3 separate regions of the Homo sapiens genome follow, and all the other regions are linked to region 1. The links come from fine-mapping of genetic effects on gene expression. A gene starts in region 1. Each other region holds a variant in brackets. All regions are shown on one strand. Distances are between the middles of the regions.

Evidence for each region.
Region 2: its variant is fine-mapped to the expression of GFPT1 in whole blood (TOPMed, PIP above 0.99). The same link has a PIP of 0.9 or more in blood mononuclear cells, fibroblasts, lung, nasal epithelium, sun-exposed skin and thyroid.
Region 3: its variant is fine-mapped to the expression of GFPT1 in monocytes after interferon gamma (Fairfax 2014, PIP 0.95).

The regions. Positions count from the first base shown.
Region 1 is chr2:69,383,786-69,391,969 of GRCh38, forward strand. GFPT1 (glutamine--fructose-6-phosphate transaminase 1) reads right to left here and starts at 3,442. Exons shown (of 20, transcript NM_001244710.2): 1 at 3,280-3,442. The coding sequence starts at 3,286. RefSeq lists silencers at 3,022-3,691, 3,752-3,861 and enhancers at 3,234-3,793, 8,041-8,184.
Region 2 is chr2:69,321,699-69,329,882 of GRCh38, forward strand. GFPT1 (glutamine--fructose-6-phosphate transaminase 1) reads right to left here. Exons shown (of 20, transcript NM_001244710.2): 16 at 7,986-8,100; 17 at 7,599-7,726; 18 at 6,573-6,740; 19 at 5,216-5,377; 20 at 1-4,535. The coding sequence ends at 4,491. Among named protein-coding and RNA genes, the nearest start is that of GFPT1, 61 kb to the right of the region's middle. The variant G/T (reference allele first, on the strand shown) is at 3,621.
Region 3 is chr2:69,445,810-69,453,993 of GRCh38, forward strand. It overlaps LOC124906020 (a long non-coding RNA gene), which reads left to right and starts at 3,690. Exons shown (of 3, transcript XR_007086829.1): 1 at 3,690-3,748; 2 at 7,812-7,899; 3 at 8,145-8,184. The variant G/A (reference allele first, on the strand shown) is at 3,117.

The sequences.
Region 1 (8,184 bases):
CGGCTAATTTTTTTGGATTTTTAGTAGAGACAGGGTTTCACCATGTTGGTCAGGCTGGTCTCAAACTCCTGACCTCAGGTGATCCACCCACCTCAGCCTCCCAAAGTGCTGGGATTGCAGGCGTGAGCCACCGCGCCCATCCCCAAAATTCCATTTTATATACACCGTCGAATCAGAAGGGTATAACTTCACATTTATAAAAACAATAGCAAAATCTGTTAAAAGCTAGGGATAGCTTAAGTGACTTGACACTCAGCAAAACCAAAAATAATGCAAATAAAAAGGACAAAGTATATTCCAAACTACCAAGAAAAAGGAAGATAAAATAAATTTGGAAAATAGACACACTATTCTTCTCTGGGAGATTCTCAATGCTTATTATTAATACATTAAAGATTCCAAGAAATCCTCCAATCAAAAAACAAAACAAAACATTACCACGCGATTTAATATGTTGCTTCCCAAATTTACTGGACCAGAGGATCTTTTTTCCTAACACTTATTAACATCCCAATACAAGCTGGTAAACATATCAATTTTATCAGTATATCTGATTGAAAAAAAGCACATCAGAATCTTCAATCCTCATTCTTCTGCTTCAACAATGCACAACGTTGAAATAAAATAATCTTTTAGGCAAATTTAACTAGGGCCGGGTAAGGTGGCTCACTCCTGTAATCCCAGCACTTTGGGAGGCTGTGGTAGGTGGATTACCTGAGGTCAGCAGACCAGTCTGGTCAACATGGTGAAACCCCACCTCTACCAAAAATGCAAAAATTAGCCAGGTGTGGTGGTACACCCCTGTAATCCCAGCTACTCGGGAGGTTGAACCCCGGAGACAGAGGCTGCAGTGAGCCAAGATCATGCCGCTGCACTCCAGCCTGGGCGACAGAGAGAGGCCCCGTCACAAAAAAAAAAAAAAAAAAAGAAAAAAGAAAGAAAGAAAAGAAAGAAGAGAAAGAAAGAAAGAGAGAGAAAGAAGAAAGAAAGAAAAAGAAAGAAAGAAAGAAAAGAAAAGAAAGAAGGAAAGAAAGAGAAAAACTTAACTAGATAGCAAGTAATCAGAAAGTAAGCTTCCAGATTTTCCCATCTAGTCTAATTTTCACTCCATTTCTCTGCTCAGGAATTTTAGTTCAATGACTAAGATGTGGGAGGAAAATAATGACACTCATCTTCTTATCTTTCAGAATTTACATTAGAGAGAAAATAAATTCTGAACCCTATCCCTAGAATCAGGCAAAACCGTGGTATGACTTAAAAGCAGGACCTCAGAAATGCCTCAAATATTCACTTTTTATTTCTTCAATACCTGTTTCCTCAGCCGTAAAACTCTATGGAATGGAGACACAAACTATGTGAAAACTCCCAACATTTAGTCTCCACCCTAAAGGTATCTCCCTTATCTGAACCTGATTTCCATATCTGATTTATTTATTTATATTTATTTATCATTTTTGAGATGGAGTTTTGCTCTTTTTTACCCAGGCTGGATTACAATGGCGCGATCCCGGCTCACTGCAACCTCCACCTCCTGGGTTCAAGCAATTCTCCTGCCTCAGCCTCCCGAGTAGCTGGGATTACAGGCGCGTACCACCACGCCCAGCTAATTTTGTATTTTTAGTAGACATGGAGTTTCACCACGTTGGCCAGGCTAGTCTTGAACTCCTGAGCTCAGGTGATCCACCTGCCTCGGCCTCCCAAAGTGCTGAGATTATAGGCGGGAGCCACCACGCCCAGCGCTGATTTATTTATTTATTTATTTTTTTTTCAGTAAGTACTTTGACTACGTTTTTTTCTTGGAACATGATGAAATGACCTGCAACCAGAATGTTGAGTACTTGATGAGGCACACCCCTCATCATTCAGGAACAGTTAACTACCAAATGAAGCACACTGGAGATTGACCAGTTTGCAAATTCACTACTTCACAGCTCCAAACTAAATGCAAAACCATTCTACTAAGTAGACACTGCAAAAGTCTGATTCTGAAGTCAGCTCTACTCTAATAATTTCAGTAAGCTATTTATAGGTGTTTCTGTTTTTATGTGGGTTTTTTTTTAATCTACTCTAAATTTAAACCTGCTCCTCATTTTCAGAAGCTGAAATGAGCATAAAGTTAAATACAGGAAATATATACACTAACGAGTACAATCCACCTCCTGTTCAGTTCCTTCGTGTAAAAGGCTGCAAATAAGAAGTCTCCCAGAGAGTTTTCAATTCTCTTACAATGGTACTTCCCTTTAAAAAAAAAAAAAAAAAGTGTACTTTCTTCCAGGGATAAAGTCGGTTGTAAATTTCAATAAGAAAGGTAAGAATACAATTATTTTTACTGGCAATAGCCAAATTAACACCAATTTTAGAAGATATCAGTCATGTCAGACACGATTCTCAAAGTCTCTTTCACTAACACTTAGGTCATAATAAACGACTCTCAAAACATGGAATAAAAGGGCCTAACCTTAATTTTTTAAGGCTCTAGGAAAGATATTTGCTCAACTTTCCATAGCTAGTATTTTTAATGGATGCACATGCAAGGGATAAATGATATTTTTCATAGTTGGTATTCTAAAGGGGTATACATCCAAGGTATAACTGATATTTTTCAGAGCTGGCATTTTTAATGGGTGCACACGCAAATGATAAATTATGTATAACCTATCGCCACAGACATTTGAAGGCCTCTTCCACCAGAGGATCAGGTCTAAGCCCATGAACCAAGTTATTGATTAGCAATGGTTTCTGTTGAGACAAGGGATGGCAGGAAGTATCACGTTTAATGGCACTACCGTGGCTCTAGCTAGGGTCTGTTTTCTATTGGGCCTCCCCAGAAACAAGTAAAATATTTTTTTAAAGATTTTTAGAAAAATGCAAGGTAAGTTCAAGAGACCTCGCCCGAGGTTCCACAGGTTTCCTCACTCACCTGGTGGGCCCTTTTGAAGGCAACCCCCTCCACACCTCAATTCCCTCAGCTCTCTCCTCCTTTTTCAATAAAGGCGTTTCTCTCCCCTTTCGGTTCCTTCTCCGCGCCAAGGCGCCCGCTAGCCCCCGGCAAAGGGGGCCCGCCTTCCTCTCAGGTGCCTTTCTCCCGGCCGCCACCCCCTCTCCCGCCCGTGGATGCCGGCCCCCGCCCCCGCAGCCACCACTGGGCGCCCCTTGCCCATCACCCAGACTTCGCACCCTCCACACTCCCGCTTCCGCCCGTCGCCTTGGGCCTTAGCGGCACCCGCACCGCACCCCAGCGCCACCCGGCAACACGCCCCCCGCTCCCGGCCCCCTTACCACACATGATGCCGGAGACACGGCCCGCGAGGCCAGGGGCGAGTGGCTGGCGGGATCGGGGGTGCACACACGAGCTTCGGTGGGCAATCTGCGGGCTCGGGGGCCGGGGTGGCGCCGACACGACTCCCTCGGGGATGCGACGGCCAAGGCAACGACAGCCTTCTCCGCCTCCCGGGCTCCGCCAGCAACCGCCGCCGGGCCCCGCCCCTCGGCGCGCAGCGCGCCGCCGCCCGTAGGCTCCATTGAACCGCTCACGCGCCGCTCACGCGCAAGTCCCGCCTCCCAGCGCTGCCCCGCCCCCCGAGCCCACGCAGGCGCTGGACTGCTGGCGGCGGCGACGTGGCAGTGGCTCGTGGCCGCGTCCGCCTGGAGTTCCTGGAGACGCCCGCCCCGGGGCGAGCCGCGGGAGGGACCGAGCCGAGAGGGAGGGAGAAACTCAGCACCTGGCAGGGAATGACGGAAAGAGAAGGATGGAATTGTTAGCAAAGCAATAGCCCGGGTGCGTGCCCCGTGCAGCCCCAGGCCCCAGGCGCCAGCACTGCACGAAGCGAGGAAAGAGGAGGAAAAAAGCAGGAAGTATGAAAAGGGAATCCTGGGGAACATAAGGCTGAAAAAAATTGCAAAGAATTAGGTTGAGGTGGGAGGAGAGAGATAACAAAATTCTTGACTGTAAAGCCCCAAAGGTCAGCCTCTCTGGTAATAAGCAATTCAATTCCTTGTGTAATATGCTTGGCCCCTAAAAGCCCTCCGCATCCGTTGCCTCCATAACCCTCAGTTTATTGTGGAGGGGTAGAGGAGGAATGTAAGGCTCAACTATCCGACTATGAGCCTGGACGTAAGAAACTGCTGGCCCACCTCCTCCCATGACCCACCTGAGACGGCTAGGAATTCCCTAGCTTTAACAGCCGCGCGTTTGACTTACGAACGATTCATTCTATGAATTAATGCGCCATGTCTGACAAGAGAGACTTGATTAGAGAGGGATGATGTTTCTGAGAATTTATTACCTGGGCATTTGCTTTAAACAGCCTTAAATGGTATCTTTAGTCAAATGTGGAGTAATCAGAACTCTATAATGGCTCTAGAGTAGAGTAGTATCAAAAACGTACATGGCACACAGAATTCCTGGAGTGCTGACTGCTGTTCATGTGTCTGGTCTTAGCCTGCTGACTGCTGTTCATGTGTCTGGTCTTAGCCGTCCTTCCAGCCCTATACACTCCCAACAGGCTCAACAGGTAGTTCCTCAACTGGGCCAAGATTCTCAAATCTTTTGCACACTTTGGTTACTCTGCATAGAATCCCCACCACGTCTCTGTTTAGATGCTACCTCTTCAGGAAAGCCTTTTTTATCCCCCCTAGACAGACTTGGAGACATGCATTAACCTCTTACTCTTTGAGCTACTCACTGTAAAGAAATATTCTTTGATATTTTATGATTTTCTGTATTTTCCCACTGGGCTGTAAGTTTCTTGAAGCTAGAACTAGATTTTACATACCCAACACTTTTAGACCACAGCACAAAGTAAAAGATCAAATTTATTTTGGAATGAGTGAAAAAAAGTCCTATTTTCTTAGCGGAATTAACCTTCTATGGCTGGTTATATGATTAAGTGAGCATAAGGCTTTCAGTTCTTCTTACGGGGAAAAGTGCCTTTTTTCACTTGCCTCAGAGAAGCTGAAAAATGTCACATTTAACTAAGCAGAGTATTTCTCACCTAAAAGCCCTTTTGATATTTCAATCCCTTAAACAGGTCCCTGGATCACCCAGAGCAAAGTTTAAAAAAAAAAAAAACAGTGAGCTTTTTGGTAATAATACATTTCTTAATTCAAGAAACAAAAGACTGTGGATATACATCTAGCCTCAGAACCCTCATCTAAGGCTCTGGTTAGAACTCCGTTGTATTACCTAAAAGCCAAGGTATGGTTCCAATGCTTAAGCAACATCTTTGTGCACTGGCAGCAAACCTGTCAATGCCACAAAGAAAATGTCAGCAGTACTACCAGAGTTCTCATGCTCCAACTATAGTAATCTATTTAACCCTTTGCTTTCTTCTTCTGCCTGCTACTCCACCACAATGACTATCAATTTGTCTTATCCATCTCCACTCAACAAACTATTTTGGAAGATATTTATGAATCAGTTGAGAAGAAGAAACTAGTGTTACAGGTCTTTTAGAATTTGTCTAAATACAAATTTTTAAAAGTTTTCAGTAAAGACTGGAAAGTCCCCAACTCAGAAAAAAAAAAAAAAGTTAAAAAAAAAGTAAATAAAAAAATAATTTGACAAAAAAGAGAAGAAACTTTGAAGGACAGTATTTTCCCAAATCAGCCTTGAAGAACCTCACTAACCCAACACAACAAAGAACTCTTTGTAACCATGCGCCAGTTAAGATACACACTTTGGGTGCCTGACCTCCCTTTATACAGAGCTCCGCCTTAACTGGACCTTTGGGAATAAGGCCTGAAGGAGAAGAAAATAAATGATCTATGAAGGGAAGGGGACATCTGGGTCTAATTCAAACAAATGAGGGAATGGATTTTCTCTCCTGATCAAAACATTCTGAACGACAACAAAAAAAGTAATGATGGCAAGGGGGTGTCATTCACCATCTCTTTATGTAAGTCCATTTCCCTGTTCGTAGATTCAGTCCCATTGGATCTGATGGCTGAAGGCCATCAGAGCTTCCAGTTGCCATTACTAACGCAACGAAGAACCTTAATTGAAATAGCTGTAGTCATTTTTATTAACCCTTATGTGAATTCCAGTAATAGCAATAAAATTATTAAAATAAAAATTCCTTTGCATAAGAATATGGGGAGCTGGGGTACATATGTCCTACTTTTTAGGGAGCTTTGTGGAGAAATGTACCCCAGTGGACAGAGAAGATGGTAGCAAGTATCAAAGGAAAAAGAAATAGGTTGAGCCCCTGAGGCCTGTGAAAAGAAATGAGGACAAGAACAAAAGGCACCAATCAAGGCCTCAGAAAGACCCTTTGAGTGAACCCCTTTAGCCTCCCGCAGTTCATCCCACACACTTTGGCTCCAGAGGGACCTGTCAAAAATACAAATGTGATCCAGTTTTTCCTTGCTTCCAATATCGTGGTTACTCTTCACCCACAGGATGAGTACTAGATTTCCCAATTCAGTGGCAGCACTCCCACAGAAAGAGCTTTCACAGAGCTCTTCAAGGATGCAGCTCTCACAAATTTATTTCTCACAGTCATGGTGAAAGATGTGCCTAGAGGGCAGAGCTTTCACTGACAAATAATAAATAGAAGACCACTCAAACTAAAGAAGGGGATTTACTAGCTCACGTAATTGGAAAGAACAGGAATACAAACAGCTTTCAGCACATTTATACCCAGGGACAGAATGTTGTCAGAACTCTTGAACTACCTCTCTGACCTCATGGACAGGGAAATAATCCTCAAATAGCTCTGTAATCACAACTTTATAGCTTGCAGCCCAAAATGAGAGAGGCTATTCCTCCATCCTTACTTTTTATATTCTAGACAAGGATTCTGGCCAGTCCAGCGTGAGTCACATGCCCCACTCCTGTGGCAAAGAAGGCAAGACATTGTGATAGGACAGCTCCACCAAAGCCCTATAGAGTCATATAGCCACATACGGCAAGAGGAAGCAGTTCTTCAAAGGAAAGGGGAAGGTGTTGCTAAAAGAAGAACACCAAGAAGGCACACAAAAAAATATGTCCACCGCATCAAGCAAATATGACCTGATTGCCCCCCAGAAAACCTGAGGCTTGAGGACAAAGGATGCTAACTCCAACTAGAAGCTATGCCCTCCCCAATACTCCTCTCCAACGTGGCTCCAAATTTTTCCAGTAGGCAGAAGCTGGGGCAGAGTTTTCTAGCTCTGCGAGAAAGAAACTCTTTCTACTGCCAAGAAAGTCAACAAATTGAAAACCATGAGATAAACTGGTCCTACCTTTAACCTACTATTTCTGTCCTGTTGGATGTGAACAGAGCCACAATAAGGGGTGGACCATTCAGGGAGCTGCCTAGAACTGAAAGATCACTTGAAACGTAAGGACACAGAAAAAGTACTATTTTTCTAGGGTTTCTTTCAAGGGATACTTGAAAAGTTGCTTCTGTGTATCTTGTAAGCTCCTAGGGAATAATCACAGATAACACTGATATGGCAAAATGGAGTATATGGCTGGGATTTCCCAAGAGGGGTGTAGATTCCCTCTGGACTGGAAAGCAACTAGTTTCATATTCCTGCATAAAAAAATGGACACACATGTACATACCACTGCTTTTGTCTACTGTGGTTCTAGACTCTTGCCCACTCGTAAGTAGCTATGAAAGCAAGGAAAGCTTCTCTCCTCCCTCAAGTAGGAATACTCAAGAGGGGTATGAGCCCAACTTCCTTAAGGCAGAATAGTATAGCTATAATGTGCATAGGCCCTGCAGCCAGAATGCCAGAGTTCATGTTCCTAGCTTTTCCACTCAAGTTGCATGGCAATGGACAATGTACTTTTCCTTGTGCCTCCATCTTCCAGTTTATAAAAATGGGGACAATAGGCCGGGCACAGTGGCTCAAGCCTGTAATCCCAGCACTTTGGGAGGCCAAGGCGGGTGGATCACTTGAGGTCAGGGACCAGCCTGGCCAATATGGTGAAACCCTGTCTCTACCAAAAATACAAAAATAGTCAGGTGTGGTGGCGCATGCCTGTAATTCCAGAAGAATTGCTTGAACTTGGGAGGAGGAGGTTGCAGTGAGCTGAGATGGTGCCACTGCACTCCAGCCTGGACGACAGAGCAAGACTTCGTCTCAAAATAAAAAGGCAGGGGCGGTGGGGGGGGCGGAGGAGGGACAATAGTTAACTATCACGTAGGATTAAATGACTTCATAAATATAAGGTGCTTAGAACAGTCTTTGTGA
Region 2 (8,184 bases), 62 kb before region 1:
TACCAAAAGCTTTATTTAAGCAAAAACACATTCAACCACAGAACATTCAGAAAGCTAACAGGATCATTTCTACATTCATTCTGCAAACAGTGTAGTAAGAAAGGTAATTTGAGAATTTCCAAAGATGTTCTCGCTAGCCATTATTTATGGTAATTACATAACATTTTGATGTCAAGTTATTACAGACTTAAAAGTTAATATAGCATAATTTTACAATCGTACTTTCACTATGATTTTTATTTTAACCCTGGATATTATTGGTTTGAAGCTAATATTATCAGTCCTATTGGCTGTCACTGTCACAGATCTGAAGATATGTTTAAATTCATCAAGCTAGGAAGATATCAAAATATTAACAATCTTCAAGTATAGTGAGAAAAAAACTGATTTAAGTGTTAGCATTTCTAAACTTGAGACTCTAACAGTAAAAATAAAGTAATCTGAAACCTGTTTCCATGGGTAAAACACTCTGCCTGGTATTCTTGTACACAAAATTTACTAAATATGTGAATATCATAAAATGAAAATATCACTCCCTTCAATTTCTTTGGCCTTCACAAATTCAATGTGACTATGATCCTTTTCAATAATACTTTCAATGACATTGTGCTTCTTTAGAAAAATCACTTAAGTTGTAGCATACAATAGTTAACATTAGTTCTTTTATTGCTATGGTATATGCTAATTTTTTTAAAAGGGGAAAAAAAAACCCAGAGAACTTATTAAAATGTTTGTTAAAGCAAACATTTCAGTTGGTTTCCTTTCTTTGAAGAATAATAGAAATAAATGTCAGAGGAGTATTACTAAGGAGCCAAAACAAACAAACAAACAAAAAAACAAAAAACTCCTTTATTACTCCCATCCTCAGAACTAACTCAAGACAAGAGATCTGTATTCAAAAAGATAAAACAATCTCATCTCAGTAACTACCTCCTATGAAACCTAAGAGAGAAAACCTGTAATAGCTCTCTTAACCAACAGCCCCATCTGCACATCACCAAGCACCAGTTCCCTTTGGGTAGCAGTAATGCTTGTTTTTCATCTTTGCATATTAAGGACTGTTGTTAACAGATTTATGGGTCATTTGTAGCTTACTTTGCAAATACCTTTCACTTCTTATGAAACACAATATGCCCCCAAACATGGACCATTATTCAAGTAGACAAAATCACTCACTGACAGCACTTTAACAACCCGCCTCCACTTCATCTTCCCATTCTCTCACCCTATGCCTTCCAATGAACCTAGTCTTTGCTAGTGATGAGTCCATCTGGGGACAAATACTGCTTTAAAGATGATGTAATTTTCAATGCCAACCACAGTGACTTTCCCATAATAGGTATTAATAAACACTTGTTGACATAGTTATAATAAGCTAAAAATAGTTAACATTAATTTTTCTCTTTATCTTTTATTCTTATGGCACAGAATTTATTTTAAAAGACTGAAAAACTGATTCCAATGTAATAATCACTTACTGGGCCACACGCTAGATGACAGACATGCCTCCCTGCCTAAAAAGGGCTCAAAGGAACTCTCAGTTATACATGAGTGAATTAAAACTTTAAATGTACTACAAGAAAGAACTTTTTATATGAAGGATTCTTTATGTAGAGTATCTTTTTTGAAAAATCAGATTTTCTTATCCTATATTACACTGGTTTTAATTGGGCATGCTCACTTTAGTGGTGTGCCTCATTACAATGTCTCTTTTGTGTTAAGAATTAACTTACAAAAGCATTTAAAAATCACTACATCAAATGGGATAGAGAGTAAGAAGACAGGAGAGAGAGGAGAAACCATGTTTTTTGTTTTGAGTCAGGAGGGTCTCACTCTGTCACTCAAGCTGAAGCACAGTGGCACAATCACAGCTCACTGCAGCCTCAACCTCCCAGGCTCAAGCGATCCTACTACTTAAGCCTCCCAAGTTGCTGAGACTACAGGCACAAGCCACCATGCCCAGCCCATTTAAAAAAAAAATTTTTTTTTTTTTTTTTTGAGAGAGTCTTGCTCTGTCGCCAGGCTGGAGTGTAGTGGCGTGATCTCGCCTCACTGCAACCTCCGCCTCCTGGGTTCAAGCGATTCTCCTGCCTCAGCCTCCCAAGTAGTTGGGACTACAGGCGCACGCCACCACTCCCAGCTAATTTTTGTATTTTTAGTAAAGACGGGGTTTCACCATGTTGGCCAGGATGGTCTCGATCTCTTGACCTCATGATCAACCTGCCTCGGCCTCCCAAAGTGCTGGGATTACAGGTGTGAGCCACTGCGTCCGGCCAAAAAAATTTTTGTAAAGACCAGGTCTCACCATGTTGCCCAGGCTGTTCTCCAACTCTTGAGCTCAAGCAATACTCCCACCTCAGACTCCCAAAGTGGAGGCTGGTATTACAGGCTGAGCCACTGCACCCGGCAGAGAATCCATGTTTGTTTGGAAAATATCACTTCTTTGTTCTTGATTTTGGTTTTTGATATTCAGTTTAGAACTTACCCTAGCTTTCAGTATATTTGTGTGTGTGTGTGTACACATGTGCTTTATAGAAAGACACACACAGAGGGAGACAGAGATTATGCAGACTAATGACTGACTTCACATATTAGTTTTAACTTAGAATGCTGAATCATACTTTAAACTATAAGAAATGCTACAAACCCACACAAATTGTGTTTGTAAAACGTTAATATACAAAACATAAGAAATGACACTATACACACGCTAGCTGACTTACACAAAATAATCTTAGAAACAATTAAAGTAGATTAATATAGCTATAATAGCCATATATTATATATAATGTAAATAGTGACCCTATTTTATTCTTAAAAAGATCAGGTTTCTAGTCACCATGTATGAAAGTCCTTCCAAATTACCTCAAAATATAACAAATCTTTCTCTAACCCTAAGACACAAGCAGAATTCTATGCTTCTCTGGCAACAACAATAACTATTAGAAAATCTTAACCTCACCCAGAAGTTAAAACAAGAAAAGAAAGAAAAGAAAGGAAAAAACAGCTTACTTAAATAATTGTGCTAAATAGCTTATCTTCACAATTTAAAAGTAAAAACCTTTGAAAAAGAAGGACTTCACCAAAAACAAACACACTCTCCTATAGCCCTGAAGATCTGGCCAGAAAAGCTCCATTAAGAAATTATTACTCACAATTTTGGGGGTATCAAATAATAACATTCTACTTTAAATATTTTAATCCAAATTGTCAACTTCCATTTCTGACACTTACAAGCTGAACATACCCCAATATCACTTTATTTATATCTTCTTTATTCCTAAATATATTTCAGGGGTAGAGCACAGAAAATACAGAAGAGGAAAAATACTTAGGATACAATACTAAATTTGGTGCCTATCAGTGTAAAGCATACATACCTTTTTCTGAGCTTAGCCTACCACATATACTTAGAGTGAAATGATGAGGTCAGCGACCTGCAAATCTTCCAAACAATTGCAAGTAACTTCCAAACTGGCACTAAGGGACTAGTTTTATGCAACAATGTAATGAAGGAAAGTTAAAATTAACTACAGGAAATTCTTCCTCGTGACAAAGTTGAAGAGAATACTGAATATATCAATATTAATTTAATAGCAGCTCTGTGTTGTGATTTTAAA[G/T]AACAAGATAAAATATGTCATTCAGCAGTCATTTAAAAAATAAAAGACTACAGATACAAGGAAATAAAAACCACTTTTAGGAGATGAAAACACAAAGTAGTAGGATACCCAACATGTACACATCCCATCTTCAAATTTAAAATCATATTGTCAGTTGTCCAAAGCAGCTTGAATTTAAAGTTTGTGCTATAAAATTGTGCAAATATGTTAAGGATTGAGACCCACCAATGCACTACTGTAATATTTCGCTTCCTAAATTTCTTCCACCTACAGATAATAGACAACAAGTCTGAGAAACTAAGGCTAACCAAACTTAGATATAAATCCTACCAATAAAATTTTTCAGTTTTAAGTTTTACAGTTTGATTTAAAAACAAAACAGAAACAAATTTCAAAATAAATCACATCTTCTCTTAAAACTTGGCAAACCCTTCCCTAACTGTCCAAGTATGAGCATACACTGCCACTGGCTTTAGATACTCCAATTAAATGCACTACTCTTTCACTGGTCTGAATGAAGTATGGTGAAACAAGTACCAATTTTTAGAAACATATTGTCTTCTCAGATTGAAGTGGAGGGTCCAGAAATGCAACACCCAGCATTCTTTAAAGAAAATAATAGCTAGAATCTTTCTGATACAGATTCCAATATAGATTCCATTATTCAAAGTCCTCCACAAATTACTGGGAAAATGTAAGAGGTAACTTCACAAAAATCACATATTGAGTGGAATAATTATAACTGATATATAAATAAGGATTTACTAAAAAAAGGCTTCAAGGGGTGATATTTTAAATCAAGGTTTTAAATACAAAAGGTGTCTTGTGTTGCTTAATCATACAGTTTCGTACATTTTGTATAGATATTCCTCACTCTACAGTCACAGATTTGGCAAGATTCCGTGGGAAATCAACCTGCAAAAAGAAAAAAAAAAAAAGCAAGATTTGAGAGATTATATAGACTGGGGAAGGGGGTGGTTACTATAAGCAAATTATTTTTGTTTATAAAAACAGAAAACAATACATTCATTAACCATCTTTATTACAGACTACAAAGAATTAGATTAGAAAATATAATCACATAATGTGTCCTGAAAAAAACTGAAATTGGTTAGGAAAAAGCATTCTAAAGGTGCCAGTTCACACAGAAAGAGCTACTGTGGTCCTCTACAGAAGTAGTAGCCCTCATAGGGGACACTAAAAACAAAAGCACTATGTTTTGGTTGCCACAATGGCTGAGAAACCAGGAATGCTACAAAGTCTTCAATGTGTGGGACAGTTCCAAACAAAAAAGAATTGTCCTGCCAAATGCCAATAGCTGCCCTGTTAAGAGATAGAGGTTATATTAAGAAAACAGGTGGAGACTACCCAAGGTGAGTCACAATCTTGGAGGTGAACCCCAAGGTTCCTTCAAGTTCTATGGGTAAGAAGATGTTGTGATGTAACCTACAAATTGGGCCATGAAAATATAACAGGTGACAGATATATATTTGATAGATTTCTCAAACACTATTGTTAAAAATTTAGGAGAAAAAAATCAGAATGTATCCAGGTAAAAAACCATCCCAAGATTTCTGCAGTGGTAGATGACTTACATCATAGCCTCTCAGCACAGCAAGGTGGAAAGCCAGCAACTGTAAAGGGATCACGCTGAGAATGCCCTGCAAGCAGTCCACTGAGTGGGGCACCTTGATCGTTCTTTTTGTGTTCTTAATGGTCTCAGTATCCTCCTTATCACAAATTACCACAGGCCGCCCCTAGGAAAGAAAATCACACACATACACAACATCACTGGTGGGCAAAGGCAGGGCTATAGCTTACGAATGTGCAAAAATTGCACTGCATAATCCATATGAAGCCTCACGGACAGACTTCTTTAAATTCCTGTGTAGTAAATCTGATTGTTATTACTTATAGTCGAGGAAACAGAAGCGTTATGGGATCCAGTAATTTGTTTAAACTCATGCAACTAAGAAATACCAGGCTTAGTACTTGACTGCAGGTTTGCCTAACTTCAAAGCTCAAGTTCATTACCACCACATTGTGCTTAGGGAATAATATCTTTTGGAATTTATATATAAAGCCAACTGATCTGAAGAAAACTCAATTATATAATATTAAAATAAAACCTAGATGTTAGATTTCCCCTGAAATATATCGCGTGTGTGTAATTTTTTTTAATTTATTTTATTTACTGTTTTAGAGACAGGGTCTCACTATGCTACCCAGGCTGTATTCAAACTCCTGGACTCAAGTGATCCTCCTGCCTCAGTCCCCAGAGTAGCTGGGACTACAGTCATGTGCCACTGCAACCAGCTGAAATATATATTTAAAAATATTTTAAAATACATTTTTAAATGTTTTAGAAGTATTAAATTAAAAAGGAACAGCATATGTTAACTAAAAGAAGACAGGATGTGGAGACCAAGACCTCAGTTCTGGTCTTGGTTCTGCCCAATATGAGATCTATGACCTTGGTCTTCTTAAAGCTCTAAGTATCTGGGCCAGGCGGGGTGGCTCATGCCTGTAATCCCAGAACTTTGGGGGGTTGAGGCAGGTGGATCACTTCAGGTCAGGAGTTCGACACCAGCCTGGCCAACATGAAACCCCATCTCTACCAAAAATACAAAATTAGCCAGGCGTGGTGGAGTGTGCCTGTAATCCCAGCTACTTGGGAGGCTGAGGCAGGAAAATTGCCTGAACCCAGGAGGCAGAGGTTGCAGTGAGCCAAGATTGTGCCACTGCACTCCAGGGTGGGTGACAGAGACTCCATCTCAAAAAAAAAAAAAAAAAAAAACTCTTAAGTATCTGATTCCTCACATGTAAACCTCAAAGGCTGTATTCCAAAGTAAATGAGTTAACACGTGTAAACATGTTTTGTAAGTCATTCAAATAAGCTAGCGTAACTCCCCTCTTTGATCCCCAAGGTGTTCTCACAGTCCCCCGACTTACCTGCCGAGCAACCACTTGCTGAAGAGCATTCTGACACTTGGCATAAGTGTGATCTCTCATGATGATCATGATCACAGGCATCAATTTATCCACCAAAGCCAGAGGGCCATGTTTCAATTCACCAGCAAGGATGCCTTCAGAGTGCATATAAGTAATTTCTTTGATTTTCTAATAGGAAAGAACCAGATTTGTCTTCAATCCACTTTTCAAAAATCCATGTTTAAGTAAATATTATAAAAAGCATCTGATATGTCAAGCCACTGTCTATCTATCCAAAAGTATTAAAGGACCACTGATCTATAAATATATCTAACAAGTTAATAGATCACTATTTCTATATTATCAACATGTAATTGGAAGTTTTAAAGCTCCACAAGGACTTTTTAAAGATTTTAGATTATCACAAACATATTCATATTTCTGGTTAACCCTTTTTTTTTTTTTTTTTAAGACAGAGTCTTCTTCGATCGCCCAGGCTGGAGTACAGTGGTGTGATCTCGGCTCACTGCCACCTCCACCTCCTAGGTTCAAGTGATCTTCCCGCCTTAGCCTCCCAAGTAGCTGGGATTATAGTCATGCATTACCACATCCAGCTAATGTTTTTGTATTATTAGTAGAGATGGGGTTTCACCACGTTGGCCAGGCTGGTCTCGAACTTCTGACTTCAAGTTTGATCTACCTGCCATGTCCTCCCAAAGTGCTGGGATTATAGACGTGAGCCACTGTGCCCAGCTTGACCTCAATTAAATTTCTTATCTAGAGAACTTAATCTTTATTCATATTTGAACAAATTAACCCAAGTTACTTGCTAAATCCAAGTTTATCATGTTAAAATGTACTCTTTTTGATTTTCACTTCTGAACAGAGTTCTCTGTTGCACTTTCTCAAAGTAAACAAACCACAATGCATAAATACAGAAGCACTTTCAAAAGTTCTACCTATTTCATTCATTTAATGTAAAAGTATGACTATGTGTCAGGTCTGCAGGTCAATGGACTGATACTAATTAGAACTGAGAAAACTTACCAGTGCCCCTTCAAGACAAGTAGCATAATGATAGCCTCGTCCCATTATCAGAACTGACTTCTGATGATAAAGTTCTGTTGCTAGTTTCTGAATTTCGTCATCCATGCTCAGTACTTCCTTAATCAAATCTAAGAAGTAATATTAGCAAAAAAGGACAATAAACCAAACAAATAAAATAACAATATATTGGCAGCAAATAACAAAAGACCAGTGTTTCTATTCCTCTGTGCTATCAATCAGTATGGGTATTTTTTTAATACATCGGAGCAAACGTAGAAAGATCTTATTGACTAAATAGCTACAAGCCACAGCTTCAAGGATAAGAGAATTTTACCTATTACCCACTCCCTTAGACAACAAAAGTGTAATATATGAGTGTCTTTGTACCAGGCAGCCGTTTCAATCCAAGCATGATCTCTTTGCGTCTTTCTTGCATGGAGATCCGATCATCACACATCATAAGGGCAAACATCACAAGGGATACAAACTGGCTGGTATAAGCCTGAAACATCACAAAAAAGCAGGACAATTAGTTGCAGCTGCATCTGAAGAATTTAGAACTTTTAATTTTAAAAAGCTGAAAATA
Region 3 (8,184 bases), 62 kb after region 1:
GAAATTTGAGCTTTGGAGAAGGATACCCGATATCCTTTGGAGAATAAATGTTGAAAGAGCAGGAGGATGTCTTGTTGAGAAGATTCAAAGGAGGGGCTACAAAGTAGAAGGTCATCAATATATTGAATAAGGTGAGCAGCGGAGGGATGGAAAGAAAGTAAATCATGAGAAAGAGCTTGGCTGAAGTAATGAGGGCTGTCCCTGGAGCCTTGTGGCAGTACAGCCCAGGTAAGCTGCTGAGACTGATAGGTGTCAGGATCAGTCTAGGTAAAAGCAAAGAGAGGCTGGGACAAGGGGTGCAGGGGAATAGTGAAAAAAGCATCTTTAAGATCAAGAATAGAATAGAGAGTTGTGGAGGAAGGTATTGAGGACAAAAGAGTGTAAGGGTTGGGCACTACAGGGTGGATAGGCAAAACAATTTGGTTGATAAAGTGTGCATCCTGAACTAACCTGTAAGGCTTGTCCGGTTTTTGGACAGGTAAAATGGGGGAATTGTAAGGAGAGTTTATAGGCTTTAAAAGGCCATGCTGTAACAGGCAAGTGATAACAGGCTTTAATCCTTTTAAAGTGTGCTATGGGATGGGATATTGGCGTTGAGCGGGGTAAGGGTGATTAGGTTTTAATGGGATGGTAAGGGCTTGAGATCGGTTGCCATGGAGGGAGTAGAGGTATCCTATAATTGTGGGTTAAGGTGGGGAGATACGAAAGGAAGACACGAAGGAGGCTTTGAACTGGGGGAAAAGGCAGCAATGAGGTGTGGCTGTAGCCTAGGAATAGTCAGGGAAGCAGATAATTTAGTTAAAATGTCTCAGCCTAATAAGGGAACTGGGCAGGTGGGGATAACTAAAAAAGAGTGCATAAAAGAATGTTGTCCAAGTTGGCACCAGAGTTGGGGAGTTTAAGAGGTTTAGAAGCCTGGCCATCAATACCCACAACAGTTATGGGGGCAAGGGAAATAGGCCCATGAAAAGAAGGTAATGTGGAGTGGGTAGCCTCCGTGTTGATTAAGAAGGGGACGGGCTTACCTTCCACTGTGAGAGTTACCCGAAGCTTGGCATCCATGATGGTCTAGGGGGCTTCCAAGGTGATTGGGCAGCATCAGTCTTCAGCCGCTAAGCCAAGAAGATCCGGGAAGGAGTCAGAGAGCCTTGGGCCAGAGTTCCAGGGGCTCTGGGAGTGGCTGCCAGGTGAGTTGAAGAGTCCGATTTTCAGTGGGGTCCCACACAGATGGGACATGGCTAAGGAGGAATAACGGGCTGTGGGCATTCCTTGGCCCAGTGGCCAGATTTCCAGCACTTGTAGCAAGCTCCTGGGGGAGGAGGTCCTGGAGGAACACGTGGCTGCTGCGGTTCAGGCGTTTTGAAGTTTTTGTGTGCTGGAGATGTGGCTGGGGTTTCCCTCACAGTGGAGGCAAGGAATTGCAACTCAGAAATACATTGCTACTTGGCTGCCTCTACTCTATTATTGTACACCTTGAAGGTGAGGTTAATTAAGTCCTGTTTTGGGGTTTGAGGGCCGGAATTTAATTCTTGGAGCTTTATTTCTAATGACAGGAGCTGACTGGGTGATAAAATGCATATTTAGAATGAAACAGCCTTCTGACCCTTCAGTGTCTAGGGCTGTAAAGAGTCTAAGGGTTGCTGCCAAACAGGCCATGAACTGGGCTGGGTTTTTATATTTGATGAAAAAGAGCCTAAACACTAACCGATTTGGGAAAGGTCAGATAAAGGAAAGGAGCATTAACCTTGACTATGCCTTTAGCTCCAGCCACCTTTCTAAGAGGAAATTTCTGGGCAGGTTGGGGAGGGCTAGTTGCAGAACAAAACTGTAAGCTGGACTGGGTGTGAGGAGAGGAGGTGATAAAAGGATTACAGGGTGGGGGAGTGGAGGCTGAGGAAGAATTGGGACCTAGCTCAGCCTGGCGAGGAGCAGCCTGGGGAGGAGGGGAGAGGTCAGATGGGTCTGTAGAAAAGGAAGATTGGAAAGACTCATTGACGCTTGGGGTTAGGACTGAGGGGACAGGCGGGAGGGAAAGAAGCAAGATTTGGGACGAGTTGCATTAGAAACAGAGACTAGGGAGGGACCGATGTGTAAAAGAATGCCTGGATATCAGGCACCTCAGACCGTTTGCCCATTTTATGACAAGAATTATTTAGATCTTGTAGGATGGAAAAATCGAAAGTGCTGTTTTCTGGTTATTTGGAACCACTGTCAAGTTTGTATTGGGGTCAAGCGGTGTTGCAGAAGAAAATAAGGCATTTAGGTTTTAGGTCAGGTGTGAGTTGAAGAGGTTTGAAGTTCTTGAGAACACAGGCTAAGGGAGAAGAAGGAGGAATGGAGTGTGGAAGGTTGCCTATAGTGAAGGAGGCAAGTCCAGAGAAAAGAGAGGATAGGGACATGGAGAGAAGGGGTGGGGGGCGCTTGCCCTTAGGAAAGCAGAAAAGGGGTGGGAGGTGCTTGCCCCCCAGGAAAGTGGAAAAGGGGTAGAGACAGAGAGAGAAGGAGTGGGGGGGTGCTTGCCCCCCAGAAAAGTGGAAAAGGGGTAAAGACACGGAGAGAAGAGGTGGGGGATGCTTGCCCTCCAGGAAAGTGGAAAAGGGATAGAGACATGGAGAGAAGGGGTGGGGGGGTGCTTGCCCCCCAGAAAAGCAGTGCTTGCCGCTAAGGCTGAAGGACCAAGGCAGGCATCCCTGTGTGGTCAGACACCTCTGAAATGTGGGTGAATAATCAAGCAGGCAACCCCACATGATTAAACACCAAGGGAAGACTGTCTTCCCGAGTCCGTGACCAGCGCCGGAGTTTTGGGTTCACGGATAAAACGCATCTCCTGTCTCTACCAGAAAAGGAGAGGAACTGAAATTAAGAGAAGGGAGAGACCAAAGTGTGATTGAAGGAACTGAAATTAAGAGAAGGGAAAGACTGAAGGAGAAAGAGGTTGAGGGATAGTGAGAGAGGTTGGAGAAGAGAGTAAAAAGAGGCCGCTTACCCGATTTAAAATTGGTGAGATGTTCTGTGGGCTGGTTGGTCTGAGGACCTGAGGTCATAAGTGGATCCTTCTCACAGAGCAAAGAGCAGGAGGACATGGGATTTATCTCCCAAGGGAGATCCCCCGATCC[G/A]AGTCACAGCACCAAATTTCATTCGCGTCCGTGTGAAGAGACCACCAAACGGGTTTTGTGTGAGCAACAAGGCTGTTTATTTCACCTGGGTGCAGGCGGGCTGAGTCTGAAAAGAGAGTCAGCAAAGGGAGATGGGGTGGGACCATTTTATAGGATTTGGGAAGGTAAAGGAAAATTACAGTCAAAGGGGGTTGTTCTCTGGCTGGCAGGGGTGGGGGACACAAGGTGCTCAGTGGGAAAGCTTTTGAGCCAGGATGAGCCAGGAGAAGGAATTTCACAAGGTAATGTCATCAGTTAAGGCAGGAACAGGCCATTTTCACTTCTTTTGTGATTCTTCAGTTACTTCAGGCCATCTGGATGTATACATGCAGGTCATAGGGGATATGATGGCTTAGCTTGGGCTCCGAGGCCTGACACCTGTTATTAGATTCTAGCCTTATTCATTGTTTTTGAGTTTTTATTATTTGCCTATAATTTGGACTGGATTCAGACTTATTTCCTGGCTGCAAGTCTCCAAACTAACATTTTCAACTTTTTCTTCCATTTTCTTGATTTGGAATTGTTACTGGAAAGGGGTCCCGATCCAGACCCTAAGACAGAGTTCTTGGATCTTGCGTACGAAAGAATCCAGGGTGAGTCCGTAAAGTGAAGCAAGTTTATTAAGAAAGTAGAGGAATAAGGGGGGAGGGATAGCATTAGGCAATATACCTAATGCTAAATGACGGGTTAATGGGTGCAGCACACCAACATGGCACATGTATACATATGTAACAAACCTGCACGTTGTGCACATGTACCCTAAAACTTAAAGTATGATAATAATAATATAATAAAATAAAAAAAAGAAGTAGAGGAATAAAAGAATGGCTACTTCATAGACAGAGCAGCCCCAAGGGCTGCTGGTTGTCAATTTTATAGTTATTTATTGATGATATGCTAAACAAGGGGTGGATTCTTCATGCCTCTCCTTTTTAGACTATATAGGGTAACTTCCTGACATTGCCATGGTATTTGTAAACTGTCATGGTGCTGGCGGAAGTGTAGCAGAGAGGATGACCAGAGGTCTCTCTTGTCGCCATCTCGGTTTTGGTGGGTTTTGGCCGGCTTCTTTACTGCAAGTTGTTTTATCAGCAAGGTCTTTATGACCTGTATCTTGTGCTGAGATCCTATCTCATCCTGTGACTTAGAATGCCTGGGAATGCAGCCCAGTAGGTCTCAGCCTTATTTTACCCAGCCCCTACTCACGATGGAGTTGCTCTGGTTCACATGCCTCTGATGAATCATGAGAAATTAAAACTATGCTTTTCTTAAAGCTCTACAAGCAGAAGCCAGAGAACTTAAACTTTGGGAGAAATAACAGCAATTTATATATAAACAATCTTTGTGCCTATTGAATATGAACTATGCAAAGGGTTCACTTAAACACCTGATTCAAGTCACAATCCAGGAAAATCCGTCAGATTGCCACTGCAATCTGAAGATGCTTCAGAGACTCTAGAAAAACTAGTCTATAGACTGCTTCAGACATTATAATGTGTCAATGTACAACTAAAAGAGTTAGGGAGATGATTGCCCAAAGAATTGCCTTAATTGAGGAGACAATTACGTAGCCTGAATCAGGTTCCAGGATTACTTTCCCTTTGTTGCTGTTATTTGGCATTGCTTCTTTAGTTTCTCCCCCATCTCCGTAGGACATGACCCCCTAGGAATGAGGCTTCCTAGCGACTTGGAATCAGATGAAACTTACAACCACAAACTCGTGTCTTCTACAGGGTTTTTTCTCTGAAAGATTTTGAAGAACGAGGACATGTGACAGAAAATTTAAAAAATTTCAGGACTTCCACTCCTTATTCCAAAGAGGCTGAGTTATGCAACCCCCTCTTGCAAATGAATAGCTGTCACTAGCATTATGCGTTAGCCAGACCCGCATGGAAAGGTAAAAGGCCTCAGGCATCTCCGAATAACTTCCCCATAGATCATGCATAAGTAAATTCTTTGCCAGCCTCCCATAAACAAGGACATGCCAGTTGTAACTTTAGGTTTCCAGTGTATCTCGCTCCTAAAACTAAAGTCTGTTCCATTCCACACTGATAATGTTGATTACAAGCTTATCTTCCCAGGTGTAGAACAAAGACAAATGAGATCAGTCATTCCTCCAGCTACCCAAAGATGTTTGCATAATTGATTCTTCCTTTAATCCCTTTTTTCTTCAGACATTCATCTTATCTTATGTAAAAATGTAGATTTACTGGGCACTAACTAAAGTCTCCTAAGAATGTAACCATTCACCTTTACACCTACCTGCCCATCTTCCTACGTGCCTTCCTCCCCTTTAAGGAAAAGTATACATACTAAACCTCCTGAAAACCTCTTTGGAAAAACAGCCACAGATACATCTGTGGCTCACGTTTTTTTCCCTGACACTCCCTGAAGCTGGCTTAATAAACCTCAATTGACTGAGATACTTGCCTCAGTCACTCATTCTGGTTATCTTTCCCAACATGGATGTCAGCAGTGACATTAACTACTAGTTCTGCCCCTTACTCTATGGCATCACTTGACTGTAAGCACCATATAGGCATGCCACCTTTATCTTCTTGATTTTATTCCTAGTGCCTGGCATTTAAGACATACTCAAGATATACTTGCTAAATTGAAACCTCTCTGAAGTTCTGTAGAACTAATCATCTTCTAATAAATATATTTTATTTCATTATTATGCTAATTATTTTTCCATCAGTTTCCCCTGTCTAGAATGTATGCCCCACAAAGGTAGAGATATTTGCTTATATTGATAACTGATGTATCTCATATGCCTAGAACAGCACCTGTCATTCAGTAAGTGCTCCATAAATACTTCTTGAGGCCCGGCGTGGTGGCTTACACCTGTAATCCCAGCACTTTGGGAGGCCGAGGAGGGTGGATCACGAGGTCAGGAGATCGAGACCATCCTGGCTAACATGGTGAAACCCTGTCTCTACTAAAAATACAAAAAATTAGCCAGGCGTGGTGGCACACACCTGTCGTCCCAGCTACTCAGGAGGCTGAAGCAGGAGAATGCTTGAACCCGGGAGGCAGAGGTTGCAGTGAGCAGAGATCGTGTTACTGCACTCCAGCCTGAGCGACAGAGCAAGACTCCGTCTCACAAAAACAAACAAAAAAAACTTGTTGAATGGATGAGCCTAACTTTCCTAATCTGTAAAATGCAGGGAACAATACCTACTGAAAATGGTTGAGTGATTAGAGAAAATGCATTCAAAGTGCCTTGAACTGAGCTTGTCACATAGGTAGTTACAACGATGCTGTTGCTTTATTCTCCTATAACACTTTTAGACCCGTTCCTGATGTTCTACAAGGAGTGACACCTGAGGTCAGCCGACTAATCTGTGTTATTCCTAGAAATGAGATGGATTTGAGTATTTCTGCTGGACTGATGTGGCAGATGAAACAAAGAAATATTTACCTGAGGTATGGTGAACGCTTCTGGGAAAGAATTCATCCTGGGGAAGAATTCCTGTCTTGAGGAAAGAGTCAATTCATATGTTTGATCCAAGGTCAAGCAGCCCAGATACTCAGACTGTCTTCTGGACCAGCCCCCATGAACTCTGCCTCAGGCTCAGGGAGAGTGTTTGAAATAAAGGAAAAGAAGGAAGTTGTTTCATTAAAACATCTAAGACTGTGTGAGCCCTGAGCCCAGGGTCCTGCTGCTTTCTAGCCAGTGAAAGGAGAGGGGCATGCTGTACCCCAGTGGAACCTGTGGAGCACAGTTAACTACTGATTGGATGTCAGGGTCTGAAGCAGGTTGCACCAGCCCGCATCTGGACAGGCGAAGTAGGAAGACATTACACCATAGGTGCCTTGGCCTTGTTAAATAAAATTATGGGAGGTCATTGTTTTGGACTGAGCTCCTGCACTAGGCCCCAACAGACCAGACCAAACTAAAATGGAGTCACTCACGCTAAATGCCATGTAATCAAACTGAAACTTGTAGGAGGCAGATAGACCTCAAAACAGACCTGTTTCTTTTTTTCTCCTGAAAACAGGAGATTCCAGCATGACAAGGAAGTCCTCCTATGCTGTAACTCTTACAAAAAAGTAACCTGATGTTACCCAATCAGCTTTCTTTCTATTGTTCTGTTTCTTTGTTCCCACCTTACAAAACCCACTGTTCTGCCAGGCACAGTGGCTCACGCCTGTAATCCCAACACTTTGGGAGGCTGAGGTGGGTGGATCACTAGGTCAGGAGATCAAGACTATCCTGGTTAACACGGTGAAACCCTGTCTCTACTAAAAATACAAAAAATTAGCCGGGCGTGGTGGCGGGCGCCTGTAGTCCCAGCTACTCAGGAGGCTGAGGCAGGAGAATGGCGTGAACCCGGGAGGCGGAGCTTGCAATGAGCCGAGATCTCGCCGCTGCACTCCATCCAGCCTGGGTGACAGAGCGAGACTCTATCTCAAAAAAACAAAACAAAACCCACTGTTCTATTATTTCTCAGTGAAATTTGAGACCAAATAACTCCATGTATGATGGTGACAGAATGATATCAATGCCTAAAGTTTTGGTTAATCTCTCAGATTGAGAGGTTGTTCAAAAGGGGGAAATTGTTATGTTTGGCCTAAAGCTGCCCCCTTGCATATTTTAAGTTAGGTTTCTCTAGACACAGTGAACTGTAACCCAACTTGATTTCTTAACAGACTCTTCTAACAAGCAGTCTCAGCCAGTCACAGGAGCCAAACTTCAGTCAACCACAGGCAGTCAAATGTTCAAACCAGGTCAAATAAGGTAAATCCCCAGCTGTCACCAATTGAGCTGTTTCTGTACCTCACTTTTATTTTCTATAGATTACTTTCCTTTTTCTGTCCATAAATCGTATCTAACCATGTGACAGTCCTGGAGTCGCTCTGAACCTACTCTGGTTCTGGGGGCTGCCTGATTTGTGAATCATTCGTTGCTCAATTAAGCTCTGTTAAATTTAATTTGTCTAAAATTGTTCTATTAACAGCCTTCTGGGGCTGATTTGGTCGCAGGCAGCAGAGCAGTTGAAGAAGCAAATTAGTAAATGGTAGC